Linked DNA regions of Homo sapiens: region 2 is linked to region 1. Evidence: fine-mapped expression QTL. A gene starts in region 1. The other region holds a variant in brackets. All regions are shown on one strand. Distances are between the middles of the regions. Region 1 holds the start of BLTP2 (bridge-like lipid transfer protein family member 2). Region 2 holds the start of ALDOC (aldolase, fructose-bisphosphate C).

The links. PIP is the estimated chance that this variant, and not a neighbour inherited with it, causes the effect.
Region 2: its variant is fine-mapped to the expression of BLTP2 in whole blood (TOPMed, PIP above 0.99).

Annotation. Positions count from the first base shown.
Region 1 is chr17:28,643,720-28,646,620 of GRCh38, reverse strand. BLTP2 (bridge-like lipid transfer protein family member 2) reads left to right here and starts at 1,463. Exons shown (of 39, transcript NM_014680.5): 1 at 1,463-1,632; 2 at 2,434-2,563. The coding sequence starts at 1,565. RefSeq lists silencers at 1,077-1,306, 1,327-1,666.
Region 2 is chr17:28,576,743-28,579,643 of GRCh38, reverse strand. It overlaps ALDOC (aldolase, fructose-bisphosphate C), which reads left to right and starts at 2,749. Exons shown (of 9, transcript NM_005165.3): 1 at 2,749-2,843. SPAG5 (sperm associated antigen 5) reads left to right here. Exons shown (of 24, transcript NM_006461.4): 18 at 159-279; 19 at 392-503; 20 at 892-972; 21 at 1,116-1,271; 22 at 1,352-1,426; 23 at 1,554-1,634; 24 at 1,874-2,070. The coding sequence ends at 1,945. RefSeq lists an enhancer at 2,347-2,526 and a silencer at 2,577-2,816. The variant C/A (reference allele first, on the strand shown) is at 1,325.

The DNA of each region.
Region 1 (2,901 bases):
GATTGGATAAGATGAACCAGAGTAGGGATACGTGTTGCACGGCACCCCTCCTTGACTTGGACAGAGGTTTTCAGTGAATTGGGCCTTCCCAGAGCATTCGGAGGACATACCCTGGGGGAAGGCTGCAGATGACGAGGAAGATGACGCAAATACAGTGCTTGAGAGGTAAGTATGACCTTGAAACAGCAGCGCTGGAGCTCTTGGGGAGATGTGAAATCACTGAAGAGAGGAATAGATAAGGGAGGAAACAATCAGAGGAGTGAAAGCAACTTCGGGCAACACACAGGTGAAAGATGAAATGGTGTTTTATCTGAGGGAGCCAAAAAGAGAGGCTCTGAGTAAAATCTTGAAGGATATATATGGAGATTAGGACGTGGGAGCGAAGGGGTATGAAAAGAGACATGACCTCCTCCATAATACTTATTTTGAAACCGTCAGGATTTCCTTAGCTTGTGCTGTATCAGTAGATCATCATTCAGATACTGATCCTTAGCACAGTAACGCTGAGGGACCTTTGTCCTGTTCTCTCATTTTACAGAGAAGGAAGCAGGCAAAACTATGTATTGTCTATTTTATGTAATTATGTTTGCTTCCCAGATAAACTACACAGAAGGAAGCAGGCAAAACTGACTATGTATTGTCTACTTTATGTAATTATGTTTGCTTCCCAGATAAACTATTTTTTGCTAAAGGGCAAGAACAATATTCACTACTTCTGCAGTATCTCCTCCTCTCCTCCATCAGGGCCCAGTTCGTGCCATAAGTAGATGGACCAGAACAGTGTTCAAACAGTAAATGAAGTAAAAACTCATTGGCCAGGAACCGTGACACGCGTCTTTAGTCCAAGCTACTCAGGAGGCTGAGGCAGGAGGATCCCTTGAGCCTGCAGGAGTTCGAGACCAGACTGGGCAACGTAGCGAGTCCTTGTCTCAAAGAAAAAAAAAACAAAACCTCATTAGTTTCCTCTGTGGATGGAATGAGGCGAGATTTTTGAGGCCTTTTAATTACCTCCTAGTTTCTGCCTCAGTAATTTTCAAACAGGATCTTGAATAAGATGGGAGTGCTACCACGTCTGACCAGGGGTGTAACTTCCGCAGAACCCTGAGTCCAGGCCTAAGTGGCTAGGCGGACTCCAACTCCCCTCAAAGTGAGCTCCCCGGACCGAAATGAGTCAGCCAGGTCCACCGCCAGCCCAGGTAGTGGGCCCGGACTCCGACCCCCGCGGGTCCCCGAGCCCCGCGGTTCCGGGCACCGTGGTGTGCGCCCGGGGCGTGTTTCAGCTCTTGGTCCGCTCCCCCTCGCCCTCCTCCCGGAACCACGCCCGCTCCTCGCGCACGCAGCCCGTCGGCCCTGCAGCGTCGTAGGACAGGGCGGGACTGGGGTGGGAGGCCGTTGGTTGGCTGGCGGGCTGCGGAAGGCGGGGCTCGTGTGCGCACCAGCGCGTCCTCGCTCAGCGTTGCTCCTGCGCGCGCAGCTGGTCGGCCCGCGGCGGTGCTGCGCGGATCCGGCGTCGGGGCCCGGCATGGCGGGGGCCGGGGCCAAGCCGGGCCGGACCCGGACCTAAATGCCTCTGTTCTTCTCCGCGCTGTTGGTCTTGCTGCTAGTTGCGCTTAGCGCCCTCTTTCTAGGCCGGTGAGGGTTCCCGGCCGCGCCGGCGGCGGCGGCGGCGGCGGGAGGGAGGGGGCGGAGAGGAGGAAGAAAGACTGAGGAGGGGGCGCGCGCCTTACTGAGGCGCGTGAGGCAGAGTGGGTAGGGTGGAGGGAGGGGGCGCGCGGCGAGGGGAGGGATCGTGAGGAGGCGCGTGGCCCGAGCTCCCAGGGATGGGCTGCGAGTTGGGGAGACTGAGGAAGCGGGCGGGGTCTGAGGAAATGCTGAGGCCAGGAACTGAATAGGAGTGTGAGGAAGGGGCCTGGTTCAGTGGCTTCCCTTTCCCCCTCCACCCACCCCTGCATGTCCCTTTCGCCAAGCGCGATGGGCACCTGCAGCATCGGTCTGGGGAGAACAGCATTCGAGCTGCCGGGTCTGACCTCAAAGTGCCTTCTCGTGGATACCTGTCTGGAGGGTGGGAGCAGGAGACAGACAGACCCTCTGGGGAGTGTGATGGCACATGTGACAGAGCCGCCTCCGCTTTGACTCTTGCTGGGGTCTTCTCTCTCTGCCTCTGGGATTCATAACAATTTGAGGGATTTTGTTTTTGTCTTCAACTTAGAGGGTGCAGTTTCTGGTTTCATCTGGGTGGAGGGGTCAGTCGGGAGCTAGGATCTTGATCAGCGTGGCTGAATGTATATGACAGAGTGGTGCTTTGGAAGAAAGGAGAGTTGCTCAGATCCAGTTTCAGGAACGACCTTTTGCAAGGCTTTGAAAGACCAGCAAGGGGTGAGGGAAACCATCATTGGAAAAAGGTCCTATGAATTAACAGGAATTTTTCTGCAGGTGGCTTGTGGTCCGGTTGGCCACCAAGTGGTGTCAGCGGAAGCTGCAGGCGGAGCTAAAGATTGGCTCCTTCCGCTTTTTTTGGATCCAGAATGTCAGTCTTAAGTTTCAGCAACACCAGCAAACAGTGGTGAGTTCTGGGAAACTCTGGATATGTGTGTAGGGTTGATCCAATTGAATTTAAACTCTTAATTTCCTTTTTTTAAAAATAGAAATCCTGGTGGCTTTTCTAGTTAATCCCAGCCTTGCCATTTCTTTGCCAAGATGATCTTAGAGCTAGTTGGAGAACGCTGCAAGTTGTTCAGTTAAAAATGTTTGTAGGACACAGAGTGTCCAGGGCACATAACAAAGATACAGAAGAAAGATAACAGGAAATCGAAGATTTTACTGTTCTAATTTAAGATGGGATTCAAGGCAACATGGCTATGAAAGAGAAATTCTAATAATCCAGAACATTTCCTGGCTTGT
Region 2 (2,901 bases), 67 kb after region 1:
TGGGCTCATTTTATTTCTGCCTTCTGGGATCTGTAATGTTCCAGACATTCAAATCCTGTGGGTGGGGAACACGGATAAGAGTTGTGGAAATGATGGCTATACACTCCTTCCTTCCAGGGCTGGAAGGCTAGACCTCTATCTGGGACTTTCTCTTTCAGAGACCCCAGGCATGGAGGAGAGCCTGGCAGAAATGAGTATTATGACTACTGAGCTTCAGAGTCTTTGTTCCCTGCTACAAGAGTCTAAAGAAGAAGCCATCAGGACTCTGCAGCGAAAAATGTGAGTGGGATGCAGTTTTGGTGACAGAGGGACAGTGAGACATCCTCTTATGCCAAGGGTCCAACTGATCCCTGAGAGGACAGGAATGTTGCTAAATTCTTCCTTCCTTCAGTTGTGAGCTGCAAGCTAGGCTGCAGGCCCAGGAAGAACAGCATCAGGAAGTCCAGAAGGCAAAAGAAGCAGACATAGAGAAGCTGAACCAGGCCTTGTGCTTGCGCTACAAGGTGAAGGAGGGACCTAGAAGTGGGGCGATGAAGAACTGGGGCAGCTCTACTGGCCCACTGGGAGCCATTATCTCTCCAGGAATCTGGGTGGTGGGGATTTTCCAACCACTGCCCTAGTTTTGCCCTTCCTGGGGTCAGACATTTCACATGTCAGCTATGGGCTGACCTGTCTTCCCAGGCTGACTCAGGAGAGAAGTCAGGAACTCTAGCAGAGCTCTCCCAACACTGAAATGTGCCTTGCCTGGCTTGGCCCTGGGGAAAGAATTGGCGTGATATCAATTGGTCCCATGTGGGCTAAGCATGGGTCAGGCACTCTCTCCTACCTCCTGGCAAGGGCTGTGAAGAGACCAGCTCTTCATGTGTCTTCTCACCTCCCTTTCCCTCACAGAATGAAAAGGAGCTCCAGGAAGTGATACAGCAGCAGAATGAGAAGATCCTAGAACAGATAGACAAGAGTGGCGAGCTCATAGTATGTTCACCATCATGCCCAGGCCTTTGCCTTCTGTGTTACTGGTCAGCCAGGATCCCAAGTATGAGAAATGGTTTGCTTTTGTTCACCACATGTTGTCTATCCTTATGTCCTATTGGACACCTCTCCATTCTCATTCCCAGAGCCTTAGAGAGGAGGTGACCCACCTTACCCGCTCACTTCGGCGTGCGGAGACAGAGACCAAAGTGCTCCAGGAGGCCCTGGCAGGCCAGCTGGACTCCAACTGCCAGCCTATGGCCACCAATTGGATCCAGGAGAAAGTGTGGCTCTCTCAGGAGGTGACTCAGAGTTAACAGAGGAGCTGGACAGCAGGTGGGGACCCCAGGCTGTA[C/A]CCCTGTTGATCTGGACATATTTCTAGGTGGACAAACTGAGAGTGATGTTCCTGGAGATGAAAAATGAGAAGGAAAAACTCATGATCAAGTTCCAGAGCCATGTAAGAATGTCCATGCCATTCCAGGGCCATTTCCTACCATCGTTAACAAATGCCCCGCCATGTTTCCCCTGTCCTACCAAGTTTGCTCTTTTATGCATAGGACTTATAAAATCTGTTTGCTTTCTAGAGAAATATCCTAGAGGAGAACCTTCGGCGCTCTGACAAGGAGTTAGAAAAACTAGATGACATTGTTCAGCATATTTATAAGGTATAGGCAGGAGGGAGGTGATATCACTAATGAACCTGGTACAAGGCCTGGCCCCAGGAGGTACTAATGAGCACAGATCTGGTTCCCAGCCTGTGCTGAGAGCTGGGCCTGAATCACTATTGCAGGCTTCTCTGTGGTGTCTGTTTTCTCCCCTCTAATTCAGCGGCTGCCTCCTGGGGCTGGGAGCCCTGGGCCTTAAGTCTGTGGTCCTGAGCTGCGTTTTCTGCCTCTCTTCCCAGACCCTGCTCTCTATTCCAGAGGTGGTGAGGGGATGCAAAGAACTACAGGGATTGCTGGAATTTCTGAGCTAAGAAACTGAAAGCCAGAATCTGCTTCACCTCTTTTTACCTGCAATACCCCCTTACCCCAATACCAAGACCAACTGGCATAGAGCCAACTGAGATAAATGCTATTTAAATAAAGTGTATTTAATGAATTTCTCCAAGCTTACGGAATCTTACTTTTTGGGTGAGAGGGGGCGGATGATGAAGTCAGGGAAGAAGCAGCTTGGGCCTCCTGCCTGGGCACCCTCCATAGATCCCTCTCCACCTCCTGCTGCATCCAAAGCCAAGGCTGCCTGCCCTTCCTCCCTTCCTCTGCTTTCACCAAAACTCTGGGCACTGGACTGCTTGTTCCCTGGCTCACCGCCTGGAGGAAACAGAAAGGCTTCATTCTCTTACTTTCCCCAGCCCCCTCGGGGGTATACCCTGGCAAATATGGGGGTGAGGACAGAGAAGCTCAGTTCATTACTTCCTGCCCTGAACTTGGGCACCTTGAAGATGCTTCTGCCCCACCTACTCAACCTGTTGTTACTGTTCTGGTGCCTCCTCTTCACCAGACTAAGCTTAATCCCCAGCATCCAGCAAGTGCCCGGCACGTGGTAAAGGGATTGTGGCAGAAATGAACGCAAGGTCATGGCCAGGCTCCCCGAGGTGGGAGGGCAGTCCCTAACAGCCACGGATGCCTGGCGGGGCGCTCACTCCACCTCGCCGCCCCGCCTCTGAGGGCGTGGTCTTGCCCCGGACACCAGTCCTGGGGAGGGGGTGTGGTCAGGGCGGGGCATGCAGGCCACGCCCCCGGAGGAGTCACGTAGCTCTGCGACATCCGCAGCCTCATTTACCAGAGGGAGCCAGGGCTGCAGCCTCATCTGTTTGCGGATCAGAACCCGAGCTGTGCTTGTGGCTGCGGCTGCTAACTGGCTGCGCACAGGTAAGGCCAGGCAAGGCGGGAGCCACTCAACATCTCCGCTTCATTTCCTTGGCTCTTC